Linked DNA regions of Homo sapiens. The protein of the gene in region 4 purifies or fractionates together with the protein of the main gene of each other region. This does not show direct contact. Each region holds a gene or a part of one and is shown on either strand. Other genes may lie near its edges.

Evidence for each region.
Region 1: the proteins of MFAP4 (region 4) and RDH13 purify together in Homo sapiens (affinity purification with mass spectrometry; one large-scale study listed by BioGRID and IntAct). This does not show direct contact.
Region 2: the proteins of MFAP4 (region 4) and HPSE purify together in Homo sapiens (affinity purification with mass spectrometry; one large-scale study listed by BioGRID and IntAct). This does not show direct contact.
Region 3: the proteins of MFAP4 (region 4) and LRIG2 purify together in Homo sapiens (affinity purification with mass spectrometry; one large-scale study listed by BioGRID and IntAct). This does not show direct contact.
Region 5: the proteins of MFAP4 (region 4) and ITGA7 purify together in Homo sapiens (co-immunoprecipitation; one large-scale study listed by IntAct). This does not show direct contact.
Region 6: the proteins of MFAP4 (region 4) and FBN1 purify together in Homo sapiens (co-immunoprecipitation; one study listed by IntAct). This does not show direct contact.
Region 7: the proteins of MFAP4 (region 4) and EDEM3 purify together in Homo sapiens (affinity purification with mass spectrometry; one large-scale study listed by BioGRID and IntAct). This does not show direct contact.

Annotation. Positions count from the first base shown.
Region 1 is NC_000019.10:55,056,649-55,060,148, forward strand, and holds part of RDH13 (retinol dehydrogenase 13 isoform 1 precursor), read right to left. Parts: intron 2,628-3,500; coding exon 2,509-2,627; intron 161-2,508; coding exon 5-160; intron 1-4. UniProt on the Homo sapiens protein: Retinol dehydrogenase with a clear preference for NADP. Oxidizes all-trans-retinol, but seems to reduce all-trans-retinal with much higher efficiency. Has no activity toward steroids.
Region 2 is NC_000004.12:83,321,349-83,324,848, forward strand, and holds part of HPSE (heparanase isoform 1 preproprotein), read right to left. Parts: intron 1,017-3,500; coding exon 871-1,016; intron 1-870. UniProt on the Homo sapiens protein: Endoglycosidase that cleaves heparan sulfate proteoglycans (HSPGs) into heparan sulfate side chains and core proteoglycans. Participates in extracellular matrix (ECM) degradation and remodeling.
Region 3 is NC_000001.11:113,125,198-113,128,697, forward strand, and holds part of LRIG2 (leucine-rich repeats and immunoglobulin-like domains protein 2 isoform 1 precursor), read left to right. Parts: 3' UTR 1-3,500.
Region 4 is NC_000017.11:19,384,391-19,388,541, reverse strand, and holds the start of MFAP4 (microfibril-associated glycoprotein 4 isoform 2 precursor), read left to right. Parts: upstream 1-1,351; 5' UTR 1,352-1,386; coding exon 1,387-1,392; exon of another isoform or gene 1,393-1,423; coding exon of another isoform or gene 1,424-1,501; intron 1,502-1,703; coding exon 1,704-1,782; intron 1,783-2,077; coding exon 2,078-2,232; intron 2,233-3,087; coding exon 3,088-3,184; intron 3,185-3,260; coding exon 3,261-3,443; intron 3,444-3,832; coding exon 3,833-4,080; 3' UTR 4,081-4,151. UniProt on the Homo sapiens protein: Could be involved in calcium-dependent cell adhesion or intercellular interactions. May contribute to the elastic fiber assembly and/or maintenance.
Region 5 is NC_000012.12:55,694,405-55,697,904, reverse strand, and holds part of ITGA7 (integrin alpha-7 isoform 2 precursor), read left to right. Parts: intron 1-82; coding exon 83-210; intron 211-358; coding exon 359-454; intron 455-627; coding exon 628-689; intron 690-836; coding exon 837-1,006; intron 1,007-1,472; coding exon 1,473-1,622; intron 1,623-2,267; coding exon 2,268-2,383; intron 2,384-2,934; coding exon 2,935-3,127; intron 3,128-3,209; coding exon 3,210-3,290; intron 3,291-3,382; coding exon 3,383-3,462; intron 3,463-3,500. UniProt on the Homo sapiens protein: Integrin alpha-7/beta-1 is the primary laminin receptor on skeletal myoblasts and adult myofibers.
Region 6 is NC_000015.10:48,635,710-48,639,209, forward strand, and holds part of FBN1 (fibrillin-1 isoform a preproprotein), read right to left. Parts: intron 1-3,500.
Region 7 is NC_000001.11:184,716,859-184,720,358, forward strand, and holds part of EDEM3 (ER degradation-enhancing alpha-mannosidase-like protein 3 isoform 2 precursor), read right to left. Parts: intron 2,711-3,500; coding exon 2,585-2,710; intron 2,388-2,584; coding exon 2,304-2,387; intron 766-2,303; coding exon 682-765; intron 155-681; coding exon 30-154; intron 1-29. UniProt on the Homo sapiens protein: Involved in endoplasmic reticulum-associated degradation (ERAD). Accelerates the glycoprotein ERAD by proteasomes, by catalyzing mannose trimming from Man8GlcNAc2 to Man7GlcNAc2 in the N-glycans.

The DNA.
Region 1 (3,500 bases), on a different chromosome or scaffold from region 4:
CTACCTTCAATGATCTTTGCTGCAAACTCTCGGATAGACTTGAGGGAAGCCAAGTCCAGGTGCCGGGCGTTGACATGGTGATTGAGGGTCTCCCCGCGGATGTCCTTTGCTGCCGCCTCACACTTCTCCATGTCTCGGCAGGCCAGGATGATGTTGCCTCCTGAAAACCCAGGATGGAAAAAGATTTAAATTAATAATCCACTCCTGGGTACTGACCCCAGAGACATGAAAACATACGTCTACACAAAAACACATCCACCAATGTTCACTGCGGCATTCTTCACAAAAGCCAAAAGGTAGAAACAACCAAATGCCCATCTGTGGATGAAGGGACAACAAAATGTGGTCCATCCATAGAGATGGAATATTAGACGGCCGTGAAAAGGAGTGAAGCACTGGCTCATGCTACAGCAAGGATGACCGTCAGAAACACTGTGCTCGGGGAAAGAAACCAGACACGAAAGACCACACAGCGTACAATCCCATTTACATGAATTCTATGTATATGATTTCACACCTATGAAACGCCCAGAATAGGCAAATCCATAGAGAAAGAAAATAGATTCTTGGTTTTCTAGGGCAGGGGGTGGGGAGAGGGAATTACAGCTTGATAGTTACAGTGAGCAGGTTTCTTTCTAGGGTAACAGATGTTCTAAGATTGATTTTAAAGATGGTTGCATCATTCTGTGACTATACTAAACATCACTGAATTGGTCGGGCACGGTGGCTCACACCTGTAATTCCAGCACTTTGGGAGGCCAAGGCAAGAGGATTCCCCATCCTCTCCTTTTTTTTTTTTTTTTAGATGGAGTCTCACTCTGTCACCCAGGCTGGAGTGCGGTGGCGCAATCTCGGCTCACTGCAACCTCCACCTCCTGGGTTCAAGCAATTCTCCTGCCTCAGCCTCCCGAGTAGCTGGGATTACAGGCACCTACCACAACTAGCTAATTTTTTATTTTTTTATTTTTAGTAGAGACAGCGGTTTCACCATGTTAGCCAAGCTAGTCTTGAACTTCTGACCTCAGGTGATCCACCCCGCGGCCTCCCAAAGTACTGGGATTACAAATAAGCCACAATGCCCAGCCTCCAATTTTTTTTGTTGTGGTAAAATACAAATCACTTAAAATTTATCATCTTAACCCCCTTTTCTTTTTGTTTATTATTATTTTTTTTTTTTTGAGTCAGTCTCACTCTGCTGCCGCGGCTGGAGTGCTGGCGCCATCACAGCTCATTCAGCCTTGAACTCCTAGGCTCAAGTGACCTGGGACTATAGGTACCACCTGTGCCAGCATGCCTGGCTAACTCTGGTAGAGATGGGGGTGTTGCTATGGTGTCCAGGCTGGTCTGGAACCCCTGGCCTCAAGTGATCCTCCTGCCTCAGCCTCCAAAAGTGCTGGAATTATAGATGTGAGCCACCGAGACCCGCCCTCTTAGCCATTTTTAAGTGTCCAGTTCATTGGTATTAAAAACATTTATGGCTGGGCCGGGCATGGTGGCTCACACCTGTAATCCCAGCACTTTGGGAGACCAAGGCAGGTGGATCACCTGAGGTCAGGAGTTCAAGACCAGCCTGGCCAACACATTACAAACTTAGCTGGGTGTGGTGTTGCATGCCTGTAATCCCAGCTACTCGGGTGGCTGAGGCAGGAGAATTGCTTGAACCCGGGAGGCGAAGGTTGCAGTGAGCCAAGATCATGCCACTGCACTCCAGCCTGGGCGACAAGAGCAAAACTCCATCTCAAAAAAAAAAAAACAATAATAATAATTCCTAATGTTGTGCAACCATTACAACCATCCATCTCTCAAATTGTTTCATCTTGCCAAACTAAACTTCCGTTTCCATTAAACAGTAACTCCCCATTCTCCCCTCCCCTCCTGACCCCTGGCAAGCACCATTCCAACTTCTCTATGAATTTAACTGTAGGTAGCTCCTGTAAGTGGAATCATACCGTATTTGCTCTTCTGTCGACTGGCTTATTTCACTTCATGGAATGTCCTCAAGGTTCATCTGTTTCAATGCCCTTTTTTTTGTTTTGCTTTGTTTTGTTTTGTTTTTGAGTCTCACTCTGTCACCCAGGCTGGAGTGCCGTGGCGCCATCTCTGCTCACTGCAACCCCTGCCTCTCAGGTTCAAGCGATTCTCCTGCTTCAGCCTCCCAAGCAGCTGGGACTACAGGTGCCCACCACAACTCCTGGCTAATTTTTGTATTTTTAGTAGAGAGGGGGTTTCACCATGTTGGTTAGGCTGGTCTCGAACTCCTGACCTCGTGATCCGCCAGCTTTGGCCTCCCAAAGTACTGATTACAGGCGTGCACCACCGCGCCCGGCCAGAATGCCCTTCCTTTTTAAGGCTGAATCATATGCCCCTGTCTATAGAAGCCACATTCTGTTTCCCTGTTCATCTGTGGATGGGTGCCTGGGTTCCTTCCACCTCCGGACTGTGAATAATGCTGCAGTGAGCATGGATGTACAGATATCTCTCTGAGAGCCAAAGCAGGGGAGATTTTACCTCTCCTGGCCAGTTCCAAGGCGGTCTGCTTCCCGATGCCTGTGTTGGCACCCGTCACGATGACCGTCTTCCCAGGGATGGTGGCCTTGCTGGGGCAAGCCCCACCGGTGACATAGTCCCTGAGGGTGAGAAGCGGCACGGTCAGTCCTGTGGGCCCACTCTCACCCCACGTGCCCCTGACTGAATGATCTCAGGCAACCTTGTCTGAGCTCACTCACATACCCCAACTGAAACACAGACATCATCACATCACACCAAGGGACCTCTGTCATGTTCTCCATAAGTGGCTCCACCCAGTGTCTGGCGTGTGGAACGCCTTCAGCAAGTGACAGTCATTATTTTATAAATGCTCACTGCATGAGATTCCCGGCCAGGTGAGGGGGCTTGCACCTGTAATCCCAGCACTTTGGGAGGCCAAAGTTTTGGGGGTGGGGGGGGGCGGGGGCGGATCACTTGAGGTCAGGAGTTCGAGTCCAGCCTGGCAAACATGGCGAGACCCCGTCTCTACTTAAAATACAAAAATTAGCCAGATGTGTAGGGAAAAGAGAGATTAGACTGTTACTGTGTCTATATAGAAAGGAAAGACATAAGAGACTCCATTTTGAAAAAGACCTGTACTTTGAACAATTGCTTTGCTGAGATGTTGTTAATTTGTAGCTTTGACCCAGCCACTTTGACCCAATCTGGAGCTCACAAAAACCTGTGTTGTATGAAATCAAGGTTTAAGGGATCTAGGGCTGTGCAGGAAGTGCCTTGTTAACACAATGTTTCCAAGCAGTATACTTGGTAAAAGTCATCGCCAGTCTCTAGTCTCAATAAACCAGGGGCACGATGCACTGCAGAAAGCTGCAGGGACCTCTGCCCTTGAACACAGAGTATTGTCCAAGGTTTCTCCCCGTGGGATAGTCTGAAATATGGCCTCGTGGGATGAGAAAGACCTGACCGTCCCCCAGCCCAACACCCGTAAAGGGTCTGTGCTGAGGTGGATTGGT
Region 2 (3,500 bases), on a different chromosome or scaffold from region 4:
GATAAAATAAACAGAAGGAAAAGATATAATATATGAAATAATCAAATATTCCTCATAATGAATATATACGTTATATACACATTATTATAATTCAGTGGTGTATACAATATTTTCAGTATTTTTTTCTCTTTAAATTATTAAAAAATAGAGACAACGTCTCTCTATGTTGCCCAGGCTGGTCCCGAACTCCTGGGCTCAAGTGATCCTCCTGCCTCAGCCTCCCAAAGTGTTGGGATTACAGGTGTGAGTCACTGCGCCCATCCTAGTAATTGTTAAGATACGATTTAACTTCCATTTGATGTCTGATAGCACTTCTGAAAGACAGGACAAATTTTCATGGCCCCCTAGGGCAGGTTTCTCAGGTGAAGGCCACAGCCTTTCAATATCAGAATCCCCTGACAAGCTTGCTAAAATCAGAATCTAACGTTGGAGCCCAGAAGTCCACAGATCTCGTTCACCCATATTCTATATTTAGAATAAATATCCTTCAATCTATCATTGTGTCTTTGGCTAGAAATGCTCTTTAGTTTGACGCGATTCTACCCACTTGCTCCCTCCAAGCAGTTCTATCCTTCAGCTACAATCACTGTTTTATTAATATTTACTGTACAATGAGCTCTCAGTTATATCCAGGACGCCTTTTTTTTTTTTTTTTTTTTGTGAGGCCTCACACTGAACATGACAAACATCATGATAAGGAAACCTGCCCACTGCCTCCTCCTCTTGTTCAGATTCCTCCACAGGTCAGATGAGGGGAGAGGAAGTTAATCTCATTAATTGTTAGGTGTGAGAAATAACAGTTTTCTCAAAGCATTCTCATGACGGACTGACGTTAATTAAAATATAGAGTGAATCTTTAAAAATTTTCACCCTGGTTGACTTGAGATTGCCAGTAACTTCTCTCTTCAAAGGTTGATTCCTTCTTGGGATCGAAAATTAGGAAGTCTGTCTTGGTGCCACCAAACCTCAGGTACGCAGGAGACAAGCCTCTGGCCAAGGTACGAAGCTTTGGAGAACTGTTAGGAAGACAAGCAAGAAAGTATAACTATTTTTTCCAAGACAATCTAGTCAAACATTCTTACTTCCTTCTTTCCTGGTGGACCTATTTCTTAACATTTCCCTGTGCAGGACTTAGAGGAGGAAATCACATTGTTTTGTTTTTGAGACAGAATCTTGCTCTGTTTTCCAGGCTGGAGTGCAGTGGCGCGATCTCACTTCACTGCAACTTCTGCTTGCCGGGTTGAAGCAGTTCTGCTTCTGCCTCCTGGGTAGCTGAGATTACAGGCAGTATTGTTTAATTTTTATTTGTTTTCTTATTGGGCATGATAGAAAGGGAATCATTGTTTAAAAGAGGAAGCATCTCAATCTGAATCTAATTGAAGGACTGATCTTCTAGGAACCTGAGGGCAATTTGTAGCTCTAATTCTGGCAAGAGCTTGTTTGTGTGTGTGTGTGTGTGTGTGTGTGTGTGTGTGTGTGTGTGTGTGTGTTTGTGTGTGGAGGGATGGGGTCTTGCTATGTTGCCCAGGCTGGTCTCAAACTTCTGGCTTCAAGTGATGCTTCTGCCACAGCCTCCCAAAATGCTGAGATTACAGGCATGAGCCACTGTACCCAGCCAGGAGCTTATGTTTTAACTTGACAAGTAGGATGGTGTTCAACACTTAAAAAAAACTCATAGCCTTTTATGATGGATGGGGAGAAAGAAATGATAGAATAGAAACTAAGGGAAAGACAGCTCTGTGTCTGTCTGAAAAATAGATCGTCCGAAACTATGGGACAGTAAAAAGATCAGCGGTTACCAGGGGCTGGGGGTGGAAATGCAGAGAGGGAGGGATGAATAGGTGGAGAACAGGGGATTTGCAGGGCACTGAAAATACTCTGTATGTTACTATAATGGTGGATACATGTCATTATACATTTGCTCAAACCCATAGAATGTACACCGACAGTGAACCCTGCCGTGAACTATGGACTTTGGGTGATAATGATGTGTCAGTGTAGGTTCATCAACTAGAACAAACACCTCTCTGGTGGGGATGTTGATAATGAGGGAGGCTATGCATGTGTGTGGGCAGGGGGTTTATGGGAAATCTCTGTCCTTGCATTCAATTTTGCTGTGAACCTAAAACTGCTCTAAAAAATAAAGTCTATTTAAAACACACACACACACACACACACACACAATTTGGTGAATGACTTTTTAAAAAGTCTTCACACACCTGTCTTTCCAGAGAAGTTTATAAATGACTTAGGATCTCTTCTCCTCTTCTTAACTCCTGCCTCCCTTCACCATTCCCCACCAAGGAAAATCATTCTTTTGTATTTAAGTCAAATGACTTAGAATTATATAGTATTCTAATTCCCATCACTGACACCTCTAATTTGAACAATTCTAAATGCATATTCTGTCAAGCCAAAAATGCTCCAAATGGGTGCCTATCATGTGCTTAGAATGGTACCAAATGCTAGAAAATGGAATTAGAATGATCTATAATCCCTTCCCTCAAAAAGATGAGGATGTTCATAAATATTTACATGAGCAAAACTAAGAAAACAGAAGACCTGGGTAAGAGAAACACCTGTCATACATTTCTGAAGTATCAAACATGCAATGCTGGCCACACTGCTTCCTGGAATGCTCTGAAAACATATTAAACCAATGCTAGCAACTCTTGGAATGGCCTAATTAGTTTGTCTACATGTAGGTTTATTTCAAGTCAGGAAATTATTCCTGGAGCACTGATTGCCAATACTTCTTCTTCTTCTTTTTTTTTTTTTTTTTTTTTTTTTGAGACAGGATTTCATTCTCATCATCCAGGCTGGAGTACGATGGCGTGATCTCAGGCCATTGCAGCCTCCACCTCCTGGGCTCTAGCAATTCGCCCACTTCACCCTCCCAAAGTGTTGGGATTATAGGCGTGAACCACCACACCTGGCCAAATTGCCAGTACCTCTTAATATCCTAGGAATTAAAGATCTGATCTAAAATTTAAAGTTTTAAGATGTGCTCATGCTTAATTAAATATGTATAATGCTATGTAAAATTTTCAAAGTATTTCTTTATGCTTAGGAAATAAACTAAAAGATAGAAATTGAACAAAATGTAAGTCTCTTGTGTTAAAACTTCAGTGATTCCTCCTCACCATATTTTTGTTTGTAACTTGGGAGTCCCTAAAAATACGGTGGGCTCTGACACTAGGAACCTCAGAATAAAGTGAGATTTTAAAATGTTATCAACCCGAATTCACCCTGACTGAAATACCTGACAGCCCCAAAGAGCTCTAGGAAGGATGGCATCTGTCATGGCATCCTCAAAACCACGGCTAAATAAATGGAAATGCTAATCTGAACTAAGTAAGGAAGAAGCAGCTATTTTCAGTTTGGTACAAACCCAAATAAAAATAAATTGTAGGGAGGGGAAAACAGAGGATGCACTATTGTTTAATGGGTACAGAGTTTCAGTTTGGGAAGACGAAGAAGTTCTGAGATAGATAGTGGTG
Region 3 (3,500 bases), on a different chromosome or scaffold from region 4:
ACTTACTTGTTAAGAAGTGTATCTATAGAGGCAGCTACTTAGTGATTGTATACACATAAACACAGTCTTGGTGTAATTAACCGCCTTCTTCATGCCTAGAGGTTCATACTTCTGGTCATTTGCCATCTGTTTAAAAGTGCTAGGTGATACTCCCTTTCTAACATAAAAAGCTTGTTCTTTCAGAGCCTGGCAGTCCTGTCACAGCTGTATGCACCTAGAGGAAAACTTGTTTGGAAATTCCTTTCATTTCCTCCCCCTCTCCCTCCTTCCCTCTTTTTTTTTACTGAAACAGAAATTGATTGAGGAAGGTTCAGTCATTCCTTCAGGAACCAATGAGTTAGATCGGGTTGTTACTTTATGTATAATGAACGCTTCAAAAACTGGAGGCTGATTTAAAGATTGCAGAACTTGAGTCAGACTCATAAGCAGTACTGTGACATGAATTGGAGCCAGAACAGTTGCTGATATCAGAACCATCTCTTTCATTCTGTGACTTTGCTCTTGCCATGTTCTGACTGGGGTGAGCCGCTAGGATACAAATCACTATCACTGTCCATATTTGAGTCTGCAAATCTTGTCATTGTCTGCTTTAATGCTCTTTGAGTTGCAACAGGTGTATTATTTAAATGAGTATTTGAAATTCTGTGAACAGGAATTCTTTTGGTAGTGAAATAGGTGCTCACACCTGCTTGCTCAGAATGTGAAAATATTATTTCTGAGTTCTCTTTGTTCACTTTCTAAAGTGACTGTTGTTTGGTGTTGGAGATGTTAACTGGGTTCTATTAGGTGTGCTATATCTTGGCAAATATTCCCCATGATGAACTCTTCCTACTATCACAATCAGGACTATGACTGGATTTCTCAGTCTCAGTGCCCCAGATTCACCATTTCTGATTGTGTCTGGAGAACGTTTTCCTGGAAAGGCATTCCATGTTCCAAAAGCTACAAAAACATGCCACTTTGCAACTATGGGTCAGTTATTTGCTCTCTCAATGTCTCATGTTGCTGAGTTCTAGAAAATCTCTGTCTCATTTACCAGGGGTCATTCAAAAGTCTGAGATGTATATTATCATGAAATATTTGTGAAATTTCTCACCATGAATTTGGAGGGAACCTACTTTTATTTCTCGCTCTGGTTCTCCATTGGTCTGGGCTCCTGCTTCTCAGTCTTCTCTGACCTCTGGTAAGTGGAACTTTCATTAATACTTCTGTCGCACTTTGTACCTGACCTAGGTGGCCTTGCAAATGTTGACTCAGATTGTGGATTTTCCACTTTCCTCTGTTTTCCCTATTTTCTCCCCTGGGAAATCTTGCAGATGATGCATATTCATTTTCTGTATTCAGCCTTCCATTATTAAGGATAAAATTGATCCCTACATTGAATCTGAAATTACCACTATATGGATTACTCTGGCTCACTGCTGTCCAAGCTTGGTTTTCTCTTTGCTTACTTCCTGTCATATTTTCAGTTTGCCCAAAAGAGGTAAGCCACTTTATTACAGACCCATTACTAGTGCTAGACGTCATCCACCTCTGTTTTCACCTGATTCTTGTGGGGAATCCTCTTTAATTTGTTGTAACCTTCTCAGCAACTCTTCTGTACTTCACCTATAGTGCCTAGCAAATTGTTATCACTCATAAGCCTGTAATCTTCATCACTCAGGTTATTTGCAAGTAGAAAGCTTCTGGAACCATTTGTCCATCCGACTTCTGCACTGGGCCACATCCATCTTCTTCATTGTCAGAATCTGAGTTTTCTGTCTTGAAGAACAGCTGGAAAGTTGTCTGGCTGTTATGACACAGTATTGAAATACCAGACTGAGTTTCAGTTGTTTCTAGTTGTGTTCACTTTGTGCTTTCTCTGAATGGGAATATCTTCTTTCAGCAAAGTTCTTCATTGACCAGGAAACCAAAGATTGCTTCTTTTCCAAGTTTGTTTTGTTTTTAATCTTTTACCAATGTGCAGTATATCTTAAGAAGGGAAGAGTGCTCTTGGGAGTAGAAGAACATGCAAACATTCTTTTTTCTTTATTATTATTTGAGATGGAGTCCCTCTCGGTCACCCAGGCTGGAGCGCAGTGGCATGATCTTGGCTTACTGCAACCTCCGCCTCCCAGGTTCAAGCAATTCTCTTGCCTCAGCCTCCCAAGTAGCTGGGATTACAGGCACACCACCATTTCCAGCTTTTTTTTTTTTTTTTTTTTTGATATTTTTAGTAGAGATGGGGTTTCACCATGTTGGCCAGGCTGGTCTTGAACTCCTGACCTCAGGTGATCTGCTTGCCTTGGCCTCCCAAAGTGCTGGGATTACAGGCATGAGCCACTTGCCTGGCCCCAAAATTCTTATACTGTAAAGCCTTGTAGTGGTCCTTATTTTTTTTTTTTTGAGACGGAGTCTCGCTCTGTCACCCAGACTGGAGTGCAGTGGCACAATCTCGGCTCACTGCAACCTCTGCCTCCCGAGTTCAAGCCCTTCTTCTGCCTCAGCCTCCCAAGTACCTGGGATTACAGGCATGCACCACCATGCCCGGCTAATTTTATTTGTATTTTTAGTAGAGACGGGGTTTCTCCATGTTGGTCAGGCTGGCCTCGAACTCCTGACCTCAGGTGATCCACCCGCCTCGGCCTCCTAGAGTGCTGGGATTACAGGCGTGAGCCACCGAGCCCGGCCGGTCCTTATTTTATACAAGTGATTAAGCCAAAAATTTTCTTGAATTTCTGATACCAAAGAGCTTTAGGTAAATAACTTCACACTCTAATGCAATGTAATTCTTTCTTTGTGCTTTCAGATTTCCTTACACTTCCTGTCCAGTTCTCTCTTCTAAATCCAATATTACTCACTAGATAATTTCAGCCACTTAAATAAAAATATCTATTTTTAAGTCCTGGTTCAAGGGTTCCAAACTCACATAATTTCTCAACTTTTTGCCAGAAAGTTGAGCATTTATTCATACTTATTTTCAATCCTAAGTGTTCTCCCATGGGCAGCAGCACTTCTTGAGCTGTTTAGTACTGCCACACCTTTTTATGTCTTTACTATGTCAGCCTCTGATCATTTTCACTTTGAACTTCCTAAAGATCACAATTTCCTATCCCTTCAATCTGCGATCCCTCTTCTTCCTTTCTTACTAGATTATGGTGTAGTTTGTACTAGACTGACTCATTAAGACCTTGTACGCTTCCTGAGTCTGCTTATTACTGGCTTTGTAATCAAGGGTGAGTCTTTTTACTTCTCTAGGCTAGATTTTCTCATTTATGAAATGAGGACATTTTTCTAGATGCTGTAAAGCCCTTTCCAGCTGTAACATTCTATGAATCTGTAATTCCCTCGAGGAGCTAAGGAGGATTATGCTACTTTAATAAAAAGCTGCTTTGGTGACATTTGTTCGAGTAGAACAAGAGTGATGCTGCTCATTCTGACTTGAGCCAGATGTATTTCCTTTATAGCAGGAGTAATGGTCTAAGAAATACTCATTAGGAGAAAAAAATTCTGCTTCTAAA
Region 4 (4,151 bases):
TTGAGGCTGCAGTGAGCTATGATTGCACTTGGGCAACAGGGCAAGGCCCTGACTCTAGTATCTTATCTATATATAGATATAAATACGTAAGTGACTGTGCATGTACATATCAAGCCTACTCTGTGCCAGGCTCTGTGATGGGCACTGAGCATGCAGAAATGAGACACACACCCTGCTCACTGGCCCTTATGGCCAACAAAAGGAGGCAGATGAGCGGGCACCACAAGGAGCAGCACAAAAGAGTGGGGACCTCCATGGTGAAAAGTCTGGAGTGGCTGCACTGTAGTTTATGAGTCACAGCAATAAGGGACAAGGTCCTCAAGGTAGGCCAGAGACAGACTTGAAATTCCTTTCATGTCCAAGGTGAGAAACCTAGCCTCAGCCCTGAGGCAATAGGGAGCCATGAGGCTTTAAGCAGGGTGACATAATCTGAGAGGCCATCTAGAACAACTCTCCTGGTAGTGTGCCAAGGATAGGAGGAGAGAGCCCAGAAGTAGGGAGATTCAGATGAATCTGGGAGGTGTGGGAGCCAAAGTGAAGGGTTTGGAAGAAGAAAGGAGGGGTGGAGTGAGGAGAAACAAAAGAGGTCCCATACCTATTGCATGTGAGCCAGATGGGCCAGGGAACTGTGGGAGGGGAAAAGAGTGGGCCTGAGGTGGCCAGAGTGAGGGGGGCTGGGGAGGGGGACTGGAGAGGGGCCCTGGCCTGAGCTGGGGCAGACAGAGCAGTTGGACGCCAGCAGCCTTGTGCTCATGGCTCAGAAATGTCCCAGGCCTGCCAAGAAACTGCTGCCTCTGTCCCCCCACCAGCCCCAGCCAGGCTCCCACATCAGGAGCTCTGAAACTGTCCCCTCAGCCTTCTGCTCCCCCAGAGCAGGCCTCCCGTCCCCAGAAGCCAGGCATATGACACCCCCACTCTCCCTCAGCCCTCCCCCTCAATGGCTGATGAAACACAGGCCAGGGAAGGAGGGGAAAGAATAAACAGACATCTGCAGGGGGGCCCATCAGGAAGTAGGGGGCAGGCTGCGGCGGGCTGGGGCTGCCTGGGGGCGCCAGGGGGCCCACAGGTCTAGCAGGGTGGGTGGCAGATGGCGGATAGCGGATGGAGTGGGATCCAGGGAACAGTTGGAGCCAGCAGGGAGTTAACGTCTGCAGTACTTTGCCCGACAGGACTAATGAGACACAGGTGGTCCCCTGGCTCCAGCCCCACCTCCCAGCCCCCTGATAGTGTAAACTGATGCTGGTTGTCTGGGGTGGGGAGAGGGGGGTTCTGCAGCTACGGGAAGGGGGGCGGGGCTGGGGCGGCTGGCGGGGGCCCAGCGCATAACTCTGGGCGGTTGCAGTCTGGGGCCGCAGACACCCAGCCACTCTGAGCAGAACTGACAGCATGAAGGTACGGGGCCCAGGGTCGGGGGACTCATAGCATGGGGGAACTGAGCCCACTCCAGAGGCCCCTGGCCACAGAGGGCACTATGAAGGCACAAGGAGTTCTCTTGAAACTCGTAAGCTATGAGGGTACACAGCGTCCCAGAGAGTGGGGTTACTTGGCGGGCGGGGTGGGGGGGCAGGGAAGAGGGGCCAAATAGCAGGAGAGGGATTCAGGCAAGGGCAGTATGTGCATGCATGGTGGGGGCAAATGCAAAGAGAACAGGGGATCTCTGGAGCTGGGAAGGGGCTGTGCTGACCCTGTCTGCCCATCGCCAGGCACTCCTGGCCCTGCCGCTGCTGCTGCTTCTCTCCACGCCCCCGTGTGCCCCCCAGGTCTCCGGGATCCGAGGAGATGGTAAGCAGCCCCACACTCACAGACGCGGCCTGGCCCACAGGTTGTGCAAGAAGAGGCTGGACTGTCAGAACAGACTGTCAGGGCCGAGCCCCAGCTCTGCAGGACTCAGGTTCCTCCTTTACAAAATGGGGCAGATGGATGACATAAGCATTGCTCATCTCCCTTGAAGAAATCTTCCATGACTCCTTGTGTCAAAGTCCCCCAGCCCCAGGGACTGAGGCAAACCTTGGGGTGCTGAGGTGTCAGTGATGCCATAGTCCCACTCTCCTCACTGTCCCCATGTCCCTACCCCCAGCTCTGGAGAGGTTTTGCCTTCAGCAACCCCTGGACTGTGACGACATCTATGCCCAGGGCTACCAGTCAGACGGCGTGTACCTCATCTACCCCTCGGGCCCCAGTGTGCCTGTGCCCGTCTTCTGTGACATGACCACCGAGGGCGGGAAGTGGACGGTGAGTGGGAGGAGGGAACAGAGGCCAGAGCTGGTTCTAATCCCAGCCCTGTGACCCTGGGCTTCACATATGCGAACCTCAGTTTCTTCATCTTTAAAATGGGGATAATGATACCCACAGCACAGCTTCTGAGCAGCTGCCAACGCTTAATTCTAAGTGCCTGAGGTAGGTGTTTGTTTGTTTGTTTTGAGGCGGAGCCTCACTCTGTCATCCAGGCTTGAGTGCAGTGGCTCCATCTCAGCTCACTGCTGGAAACTCCACCTCCCAGGTTCAAAAGATTCTCCTGCCTCAGGCTCCCGAGTAGCTGGGATTACAGGCATGTGCCACCATGCCCAGCTAATTTTTTTATTTTTAGTAGAGATGAGGTTTCACCATGTTGGCCAAGCTGGCCTTGAACTCCTGACCTCAGGTGATCCGCCCGCCTCAGCCTCCCAAAGTGCTGAGATAACAGGCGTGAGCCACCGCGCCCAGCTGAGGTAGGTTAATGCACATAAGCCTCACAATAATCCTGGGAAGTAGTGAGGAACTAAAGCCCAGAGAGGTGAAGTAACTTGCCCAGATCCCACAGCTAGGCACTCGAACTCTAGAACGCCTCCCTCTTAGCCTCTTTCCTGCCTCTATACGAAACTGGGTATGAAGAGCCCAGGTGGGTGCTGGCAACTGCTCCACAGGGGGCCTGGTGCCAATGTGGACGTTGTTTTAGCAACCCCACTCCCACCACCCTCCCCACCCCCAACCCAGTCCTTTAACAAACTGGCCACAGCATCACAGGGTCCATGCTTGAGGTGGGCAGGGCAGGACCAGAACCTTGCCCATTGGACCCTTGATGATCCAGTCTCATCTTCTCTGCTCCAGGTTTTCCAGAAGAGATTCAATGGCTCAGTAAGTTTCTTCCGCGGCTGGAATGACTACAAGCTGGGCTTCGGCCGTGCTGATGGAGAGTACTGGCTGGGTAAGGCAGGGACCAGGTGGGCTGAGGGGCTGCCCCAGGGCCAGGTCCTTGTTGACCAGCTGCCCCTCCTCCCCAGGGCTGCAGAACATGCACCTCCTGACACTGAAGCAGAAGTATGAGCTGCGAGTGGACTTGGAGGACTTTGAGAACAACACGGCCTATGCCAAGTACGCTGACTTCTCCATCTCCCCGAACGCGGTCAGCGCAGAGGAGGATGGCTACACCCTCTTTGTGGCAGGCTTTGAGGATGGCGGGGCAGGTATAACCCGCTGTTAGCTTTGGGAGGGGCTGTGAGGGGAAAGAAGGCAGGGCTGGCCCTGCCCAGTCAGCCCCAACCTCCTTCAGGCCCCTCCTTCAACCCTTCTGGATCTGGAAGGGCCACAGCTGGCTCCAAACAAGCTCAAACCAGCTTGGGCCTCAGCCCTGGGGAGCAGCCATCCTGGCCCTGCTCCAGGCAACTCTGTGGTGGAGCAGCTGTTTCTCTTCATTGCAGAAGCACATCAACCCAACATCTGGCTCAGGGAGGGTGCCCCCATCCCGCCAGGCTGCCACGTGATATCTCTCACAGTCGTCATTGTCACCCTCTCCCGGCCAGCTCGGGGCTCAGTTCCCTGCCTCAGCAGCCCCAACCCTTCTCTCCTCTGCCAGGTGACTCCCTGTCCTACCACAGTGGCCAGAAGTTCTCTACCTTCGACCGGGACCAGGACCTCTTTGTGCAGAACTGCGCAGCTCTCTCCTCAGGAGCCTTCTGGTTCCGCAGCTGCCACTTTGCCAACCTCAATGGCTTCTACCTAGGTGGCTCCCACCTCTCTTATGCCAATGGCATCAACTGGGCCCAGTGGAAGGGCTTCTACTACTCCCTCAAACGCACTGAGATGAAAATCCGCCGGGCCTGAAGGGCTGGCCCCCTCAGGCACCTTTCCTCCCCTGGACACCCATGGTCTCCATGAGTGCTCCCTCTGCTGCC
Region 5 (3,500 bases), on a different chromosome or scaffold from region 4:
TGGGTGGAATCAGCAGAGGCATCAGGGGAGGCAGAGGCCTGCGGGAGGTGGGATTGAGGGAGGCTGACAGCTGGTTCTCTAGGTGCTGGAGGGCGAGGCTGTGGGCATCAAGAGCTTCGGCTACTCCCTGTCAGGCAGCTTGGATATGGATGGGAACCAATACCCTGACCTGCTGGTGGGCTCCCTGGCTGACACCGCAGTGCTCTTCAGGTGAGCCCCTCTCAACCTTTTCCCTCCCTGAGGCCGTCAGCCCCTCCCTGTGACTCTGACCCCGACCTCAGTGCCAAATCTAATGCTGAAGAGTGTTTCCCAGCCTCATGTTCTCATGTTTCTTGTGCTCTTGACTCCCCAATCCCAGGGCCAGACCCATCCTCCATGTCTCCCATGAGGTCTCTATTGCTCCACGAAGCATCGACCTGGAGCAGCCCAACTGTGCTGGCGGCCACTCGGTCTGGTGAGGTGGGATCGGGTGGCACCTGGACCCTGGCAGCTTCCCCTGCCCTCCCTTTGATCCTTTATCTCCCCAGTTTGGGGCTGGGGCTGTGACAGGATGTGACAGATGGGGTGGGGGTAGGGGCCTTGGCCCATCAGCCTCGTTTGGCTCAGGAGCCACCTTTGCCCCCGCAGTGTGGACCTAAGGGTCTGTTTCAGCTACATTGCAGTCCCCAGCAGCTATAGCCCTACTGTGGGTGAGTGCGGTCCCCCCTCTGTGGCTCGCCCTTTTGGGTTTCCCAGGGAGGGGGGTCACTTCGAGGTGGTAGAAGAGCACCCTTGGAATGGGGTGAGCTGGAGCAGCTCTGCAGCTCAGCAGCTCCTCCTTTCCCAACATGCCACAGCCCTGGACTATGTGTTAGATGCGGACACAGACCGGAGGCTCCGGGGCCAGGTTCCCCGTGTGACGTTCCTGAGCCGTAACCTGGAAGAACCCAAGCACCAGGCCTCGGGCACCGTGTGGCTGAAGCACCAGCATGACCGAGTCTGTGGAGACGCCATGTTCCAGCTCCAGGTGGACACTGACCCCTTGGCTTCTGAGGGTCATTTTCATGGCTCCATCTCTTTTCCCTGATTCCTCTTAGCTGCTTTTTCCCGAGCACACTCGTGCCTCCTTCTAAGACCTAGACACGTGGGAAACCTGTCTTCTGAGCTCACTTCCTCCTCATCTGCTGCCCTCTCCTGTCATTTCTGCACTCCCTGGAGGAGGAGGAGGTGCAAGGGGCTTCATGTCCCCTCTTCCAGCTGAATGGAGGAGGTGGCAGCTTTTATCATCACATCTGGTCCTCAAAGCCCTAAAGGTTTCCCCTGTCCCCTACCCCAGTCTTTCTCCCTCCTCCTTGCTCAGTTCTCCACCTCTCTCATTCATCTCCCTAATATTCTTTCCAAGTTTTAGAATTGGTCCTAGGTCTGGCTGGGGCACTGAGCAGGGCTGAGGCCTGGGGATTGTTCCAGTGAGGAATAGACCTTCCTCTTCCTAGGAAAATGTCAAAGACAAGCTTCGGGCCATTGTAGTGACCTTGTCCTACAGTCTCCAGACCCCTCGGCTCCGGCGACAGGCTCCTGGCCAGGGGCTGCCTCCAGTGGCCCCCATCCTCAATGCCCACCAGCCCAGCACCCAGCGGGCAGAGGTGAGCATGGGTTCTGGTTTAGCCCAGGGGGAGGAGCTGGGAGGGCAAAGATCATGGTCCCTCCCCAGTGACACCAATTCACAGCTCACAGAGCCCTTTCACGTATGCTACTCCAGTAATTCCTCATATCTCTAGGTGCCTAAATGACCATGTTCCTAGTCAAGGGGACAGAGCTCCTCTACTCCATGTAGTCATTCAGGGGGCTCAGGTTGATGGGATTCTGTAATCTTCAAATGCGGCCTTCAAGCTCTTGAAGTCACATTCATCCCATTCAGCTGGAAGGGAGAACATGAGGCCCCTTGCTTGCATGGTTTTTATGGCTGGCCCAGAAGTGGTGCCCTTGACATCTTTTCCCGTTCTAAATCCGGAACTCAGTTACATGCATGTGAGCTGGGGCAGTGTGGCCCAGCTCTTGACTTGCTGCTAGTCTCTACCATGGCATGGTAGTGCTCCCATCACTACCATGATGAGAGGACCCAGAGGAGAGGACCCAGTTCAGGATCACATGGCTAATAAGCAGCAGATCTGAGAGTTGAGGACAGGTTGTTTAATCCTGTGATACTCTAACCCACCATATGCCATGGTGACAGGTTTGCCCCCTGCCTTGCCCCCTAGGAATGCCCCTTATCTCATGTCTCTCCCCAGATCCACTTCCTGAAGCAAGGCTGTGGTGAAGACAAGATCTGCCAGAGCAATCTGCAGCTGGTCCGCGCCCGCTTCTGTACCCGGGTCAGCGACACGGAATTCCAACCTCTGCCCATGTGAGGGGGGCAGAGAGCAGGGTGGGGGTGGGAGGGCAAGAGTTCAAGGATTGAGAGAAAGCCCTCTCAGGAGGACCAGTCAGAGGGAAGGGCTGAGCCTGCAGAAAAGGCAGAAGGTGGAAGAGGACCTGCCGATGGACTTGGAGACTGAGATGAGGGTCAGTGATGGGGCCACGGGGGCTCCCATGGCAAGGAATAGCAATCCTTCACAGTACACTAATAATATGCAGTCTACATACATCTCATTGGTTAGTCTTCAAACCTCTGTGAGGTAGGAATTATATTAGTCTCATTTTATAGATGGAGAACTGAAGCCTAGAGAGGTTAAGTTACTTGGCCAAGGTAAGTAATGGTGGAGCTGAGATGAGAACGGAGGTCCCCTGACTCCCAGTCGTGTGTACAGAGGCCTGAGGCTTGGACGGGTGTGATGGGGACCTGGGGTGGGAAGAGAGGCTCAGGGAGTGAAGGCAGGTACTGGGGGAGCAGACTGGGCGGGGGAATGGTAGGGGGAGGTGTTCAGAACTTAGCAGGAGTGGGGTCTGACTCTCCAGGGATGTGGATGGAACAACAGCCCTGTTTGCACTGAGTGGGCAGCCAGTCATTGGCCTGGAGCTGATGGTCACCAACCTGCCATCGGACCCAGCCCAGCCCCAGGCTGATGGGGATGATGCCCATGAAGCCCAGCTCCTGGTCATGCTTCCTGACTCACTGCACTACTCAGGGGTCCGGGCCCTGGACCCTGCGGTGAGGACCTGGGGGCAGGATGGGGTGGGGTCTTGAGGGGCTCCAGTAACCCAGACTGACCTTGCCTTCTCTCCCATTCCAGGAGAAGCCACTCTGCCTGTCCAATGAGAATGCCTCCCATGTTGAGTGTGAGCTGGGGAACCCCATGAAGAGAGGTGCCCAGGTTGGCACATCTGCCCTTATCCCTACGTGAGTAGCCTCTCCATAAGCCCGTAGACCACCCCTGACTCTAATCTCTTTCCACCCTTGGCCTAGGTCACCTTCTACCTCATCCTTAGCACCTCCGGGATCAGCATTGAGACCACGGAACTGGAGGTAGAGCTGCTGTTGGCCACGTAAGCCAGGCGGGGCCGGAAGGGTGAGGTGGGGGTAG
Region 6 (3,500 bases), on a different chromosome or scaffold from region 4:
GGAAAATGGTTAGATGTTTTGAAATTCTCATATTTGAATAAAACAAAACATACTGCTTCATTAGGAACTTTCATTTTATTCCTGACAGTTGTGAGTTCTTTAAATGCAGAACTGTGGACAAACTAAGATCAATGCCCTAACATGAATCTAACAGAACATGCAAACACAATATTTATGGAGCTTTTTCATTCTGAAGTTACAGCAGCAAAATACAATGAGGCATCCTCAGTAGAGAACTAAGCCAACTGAACTTGATCAAGTTAGAATTAAAACTTAAAGTATCTGATTAGCCTTCTCAAAGATCTATTGCCTCACAGTGGTAGCTGGTCTCCAAAGATGGCTCCACTTTCTCCCCTCCCAGCAGACACATGATGCTCCTCACATCCAAAGGTAGGTCTTAATAGTCCATGCCCTTCAATCTGGATGAGGCCTATGACTTGGATGGAATTCCAGGTCATGCGATTCCAGGCTAAGTTTGAAGAAAGTCTGGTAGTTCCCACTTTTGTGCTCTTGAGAGATCCTGAACTGCCATGGAAAAAGTCTGGCTATGCTGCTCTAAAGACCATGTAGAGAGGCCACGTATAGAAAGGGGACAACCTGAGACTATATAAAGGAGAATCAAGGAAGCCAGGCAATGTCGAGGACATATGAGTCCATGTGACCCCAGCCAGCCAGCCCCCAGCCCTTCGAGTTAGCCTACGGTCAATATGTGGGATTAACACATGTGACCAGGGTCAGGAGGCTGTTGTTCAAGATCCAGCCCCAACAGACACTCACTCTGAGCAAGGCCTAGTCGCTGCATCTGGGGCTCAGTCTCCCCATTTGAAAAAAAACACATTCAATGGCTCCATCCCGGGGGCAGGTTCAGGCAGGAGACTGCATGAGAGACAGCTTTAAAACTTGGAAGGCCCCCAGCAGAGCCAGACAAGTGGCTCTTTGCTTCCTTTATTCCCCTCCTCAGTGGGTCCATTTAGATAAACCACACCCAAGTAAACAGGGCTGCAGGCGCCAGTGCCTGGTCACAGAACCAGATGCATATGTGAAGAAGTCATACTGCCTGTTCCAGCCCAACTGACATTGTGGGGCGCAGAGACAAGATTCCCCACTGTGTCCTGTCTAAATTCCTGAGCCACAGAATCATGAGAAAGAATAAAATTGTTGTTTTAAGCCACGAAGTCTGGGGCAATTTGTTACGTAGCAATAAAATAACTCAAACACTCACAAATGAAAATACTTTGTTTCATGGTAGTAGAGGGCCTAGGCCTGATCTCGTTTCCCTTTATTTTCTCTTTATGGTGCTACAATGACTTCGTGTATGGTAAGTTTGAATATATATGGAGGTGGGAGCATTCTAGGTCCTCCTCGCCTTTGTCTTTCACAACCAACTAGTCAAGTACTGTCTGCATTAACTCTGGAACCACCTGAGTCTCTTCTTTCTTCACCCCTTTCACTGAATTTGCTCAGACCATCGTGGACTCTCACTGTGACTCCTATATTAGCCTCCTAAATCCAAATCTCCCTGTCTTTAGTCTCTCTTCTCTCTAATCATCTACCCTTCACACCTCTACCCAGTGGCAAAGATCTGATCATGTTCCTATCTTAGAATCCTTTACTAGCTCCCCGTCCTTGCCTTTCACAACATCAGTGACATTTATATTTCCACTAGTCCCTCTCCTTTCCCTAACAACATTGCCACCTATGTACGGGCTCACAAGATTGCTCAAGGTTGCAAACTGCACAGCTCCAGAGGGCACTCGTTTCATAGACTGCACTACAAACCATGTCACTTGGAACCATGCCGTGCCAACCCTGCCCAACTGCAGTCAATGTCCTAAGACCTCAGACACTTCATATCCCTTTCCCTTGATGTATTTTTCACTCATCTTTCCTTTATTTCTCAGCTATACTTACTCCAAGCTCTAGTCTATATAATTAACCATACCCAGTTAATCAGCTCATCAAAATTGCTCAGAGTTCAACTATCAAAAACTATTCTATTGAACATGTGCCGCATACCCAGTTCCTAGATGTTCCTAGAGATAAATAAAACAAGCAAGATCTCTGCCTTCAAGGAGTTCTCACTCCTAGTAGACAGTCACTTTTTATCACGTAGATCAGAGGTTGTTAAACTTTTTCTGTAAAGGACCAAAGAGCAAATGTTTCAGTTTTATGGGCCATACTGTCTCTGTTGCAACTACTCCACTCTGCTGCTGTAGGGAGAAAGCAGCCATACATAATAAGTAAATAAACAGGCATGGATTTGTTTCAATAAAACTCTATTTTCAAAAAAAGTGAGCTTGGTCTTCAGTTTGTTGACCACTGATAAACTTTTTTTTTTTTTTTAAGACAGGATCTTGTTCTGTCGCCCAGGCTAGAGTGCAGTGGCATGATCATAGCTCACTGCAGCCTCAACCCTCTGGGCTCAAGTGATCCTCCTGCCTCAGCCTCCCAAAGCACTGGGATTACAGGAATGAGCCACCATGCCCAGCCCTAATAGACTTTCACTGTAAAGTCACTTCTGATCAATCCCATTCCCACAATGATGCTTCCCTTGGCTTGTAACAGCATCTGCCATCAATAAATGTTGAGTCTTTCCACATAGCAATGGTGGGAGAAGATTCTTGGGAAACGAAGGTATAAAAGGTATGAAAGAAAAAAATTTACCAGCTACAAGATTTATTATAACTGTAAAGCAGTAAAATATTAAGATTAAGAGCTCCAGCTATGAAGCTAGATTTTCCAACTCTACCACTTACTAGTTTATGTCCCTGGAGTAATTACTGAAACTCTGCATCCCTTGTTTCTTCATTTGTTAAATGAATAAATAAGCTTAATTTTCCTCATAAAGGATTTATGTTTTAAAGGAATTAGTATTTGCAAAGTACAATCATAAGTGATACATCAGAGCTTTTTTTTTTTTTTTTTACCATTATGGCTGCAATTTAATGTAAAAAATTGGGCTGAGTTTACAGGCAACCAAGGTTAAAAAATGAAAAAGAAATAATTAAATAACTCATATGACTGGTCGTGATTTAAGACACATACCAATTTCCACTGGAAAGAGAAATACTTCTTGCAACCCTATTCAGAGAGATTTCTCACAGGGGACATGACAGCAAGAGGGTTCTGAACAACATAAACAGCAATGCCTCCAGCTCAGAAGCCCACACAACGCCCAGCAGGCTGCCTGCAATGGTTACCTACCACCCTCACACAAGTCAAGGTCTAATATTAAAATATAATACGCTGTCCAAAGTCCCACTGGCTCTAACATCCTATGATTCTTTCTGTTTTATTAATGTCTTTGCAGAAAGTTTCTTGTTGGACTAAATAATACTGTGTGATTAACCATACTTAGGATTTGTGAACTAGCATGAAAGAATATTAGGAATTTTAAGTGGAATTTTACCAATGTCTTGGGCCTGCATTTTTGTCTGGTGGAATGAAAAACCAAAACCATAACTAAAATTAATGGAGAAAGAAAAGTTAACGTTAAGTTT
Region 7 (3,500 bases), on a different chromosome or scaffold from region 4:
AGGAAAGAGGATGTTAGCAATTGTTTTACCTGTCCTCATGACTTCCAGTACGAACATCCTTCATGGCAGCAAATCCGCAAGGCACTCTAGCATATTTATTTAAATTTTCAATAAGTGTCTTCCCTACTTCAAGGTAGTAAGGATCTCCTGTAGCCTATTAAAAAGGAGAATATATGTATAATATATATAGCTTATATATTACCACATATCCATTCATTTACCAAATATTTATTGAGTACCTACTAGGTGCCAGGCACTGTATCAGGCACTGAAGGACATTATATAGAACTGAGTTCTGAAAAAAAGCTATGAATCTGCTTTACAGAATTTCTTAAATACACAATTATAAAATTTAACTATATAACCTTAGTTTTTAAATTTCTAATGCTCAGAAAGGCTGCCTGAAGAAAGGCAAGAGACATGCTTTAGAAAGCAGCTCTAGAACATAAAATTTCTCTTTAAAGAAATGTTTACATAATATTTTTTAAAGAAAAAAACCTTGCATGTCAATTCTTGCATCATTCAATAATTCTATGGACTAGATGAATAAGAATCATGATATATCCAATCATTATAATATTAAAAGGGGACTCTGAAAACCCAATTACTATTATGAAAGAATGAGAGATCCAACAGAGAATGGAGGCTAAACTTTAAGTAAAATGGGGTATATTTTCTTACTTTATATAAGAAGTAGGTACTTTCTGCAAATTCTGGCCTTAAAGGATGTTGAGCCCAGTGTACTCTGAAATCTGTGGTAAATGCCTGAACAAAACAACATACAAAAGGCATAAAAAATGTGATTAAATACACAAGTAGTTCCAGAATATATAGAATATATATAAATAGGTAAAAGCAATTAAAATAGCAATCAGGACATTTTCATCAATAAAACATCAATTTTCATTGCTTAAAATAACAATTCATTTTGCAAAGGCTGCTATTTTTACCAATTAAATTGATTATTTTTTCAGTGATCATTCTGGCTATTAGAAAACTCAGAAAAACTCCATAATGAAACTCAGCAATGCCACTACATGGGTCCTGGTGGTAAACATAATTGTGTTTTCTTTTTATCCTTCCCTCTACTTTTTCCTCTGGATTATTACTCTCCTAGTTCTCATATTTATTTTTAAATTTTTTAAATCGACAAATAAAAGTGACATATATTTATGGTATATGACATGATGTTTTGATATATTTATACACTATGAAATGGCTAAATCAAGCTAATTAACATATGCATTATCTCACATAGTTCTCTTTTTTTGTGGTGAGAATACTTAAAATCTCTCTTAGCAATGTGTAAGCATACATATTTCATATTTTAGCTTATATTTTCTAAAAGCCTCAAATCCTTTGTGGAATAAGACAGAGCATTATTTAGAAATAAATAAAATTAGTCTATTTGAAATTTATTCAATAACATAATCAATTGGTTTTTAAAAGAAAATAAAAATAAAAGCAAACAAAAACTTTTATGGGAGCTAAATAAAAATTTCATTTGTGATAGATGTATTAATTGAAACCTCAGTTTATTCTGTATGGATATGAATTTTCTACAATGCACAGTCCTACTCACCCGAAGGCTAATAAAACTATACTTTCCAAAACAAACACTTTAGGAACCCTTCTAAGTTGGTAGAATGCTTAGATATCTCACAGAGGGTAGTCAATAAGCGGGGATAGAACAAGGCCATACACACATTTGGAAATTTTTAACGGTACATTTCTGGGAAGCCAAAAAGTATGCTATTAAAATCTTGTCATATTAAGCTAGCAAGAATATTTATTACTAATATGATGTATAAAAATCAGGAAGAATAATTCTCAATCAGCATGAGGAAGAGATGGCATTCTATACATTTCCAGAGGGCATGTGTGAACAACAAAAGTATATCTAATATATACTGTTTTCATAAGACAAGCTTTAGAAAATAAAAAGTGACAAAATCTCCCTAGCTGGTAGGTACATACAAGAGTTAGAATGAGAGAATATTACAATGGCATAAGTTAGGAAGAGTTGAGAAGAACTAAGCTGGGAATTTTTTTACATAAAATTTTAAAAATGTCAGCATTACCCTAAATCAGACTTCTCTTAACACACAAAGAAAAGCAAAAACATATATAATACTGTACAAACCAAAAATAAACTATTTAATAGGAAAAAAATAAAAAGAACCAACAAGCCTTGAAGATGACATTTTCTACCTTTATATTAGCAACTTATAGTGTATATGTGTACGTGTGTGTGTGTGTGTGTTTGTGTGTGTGTAAGATTATTCCAAAAATTATTTGCTTACCTCTGGTAGAAAATTGTGTTTTTTAATCACCTGATATAACATTTCATGAGTTTCAATAGCAGGTCTAATATCCCCCTTTAACACCTAGAAATCAACAACAATAAAATTACCTAATAAAATATGAGCTGATTTTATCTCTAATCATTACATAAACAGAAAAATGTATACAAATACAATTCTGAACTGCAACTATGTTTTGTAGTTCAGTTTTAAAGATCAAAAATGCGCCTAATTAACATCATCATCTTACATTCATATTAAGAAGACAGAATTCTTTATACCTGCAAGCCTGGGAAGAAGGCAAGCAAAGCATCCATCCAAGTCCGAGCATTCAGCATTGGTTTGTGGATATGCACATCAAGTAGAAGAGGTGGCTGGCTAATATACCTCATTATGGCATCATAGTGCTAAAAGATCACAACATGTGTTCATGAAAGTTAGATGAAAAAAGAGGTACTACTCTAAACACATTAAATAGCACTGTGAATAAATTAAACTAGAATTTATATATAAATTCACTAAATAACTACCAATTTATATAAATATTTAAGTTATTTTAGATGGAGATCTTTCTAAAATATATATGTACTCCTTTATGTCCTCTAACTCACATGCAGACTATTAAAGACTATCTGTAATATAGGACCTTCTGAGAAAAATGGAACTGAACATCTCTATGCCCTGTGGCGTTAGCCCGTGGTTGGTATGACTTTGCGGCCCACTGATGCTCATAGGTCCCCTTGTAATATAGCTATCAGCTTCTGTATTACAGAATTTGCTTTTTCCTGTATCTTGGAAGTTTGATCCCTTCTCGGCTAACAATATTTTGGTGCTCACTACTATCTAAACTAATGCAGCTAATCACTGCTGCCACTCTTATGGTTTGCTATCTCAGCTTATTATGGTCTTAGAAAACTCTTTTTCCCTTCTTTTGTCTTCTTCTCCTAGATATTTCTCAGCTTTGACAAAAGGTTGAGTTGTGATAACAAGCCAACAAAAATAGTTATTTGTCCCCATTTACCTCAAGAAATTCTTGTTATAATCTAATAAACAATCTATGTGATAATTTTAGAAAGTATTCAATTAATGACTTATTAACTTTTACTAATTTTTTTTTTGCAAATTTACCTATTATTTAATCACTATTATTGAATATTGGCCATAGGTTAAAGGCACTGCTCTAATCACTTTGAATGC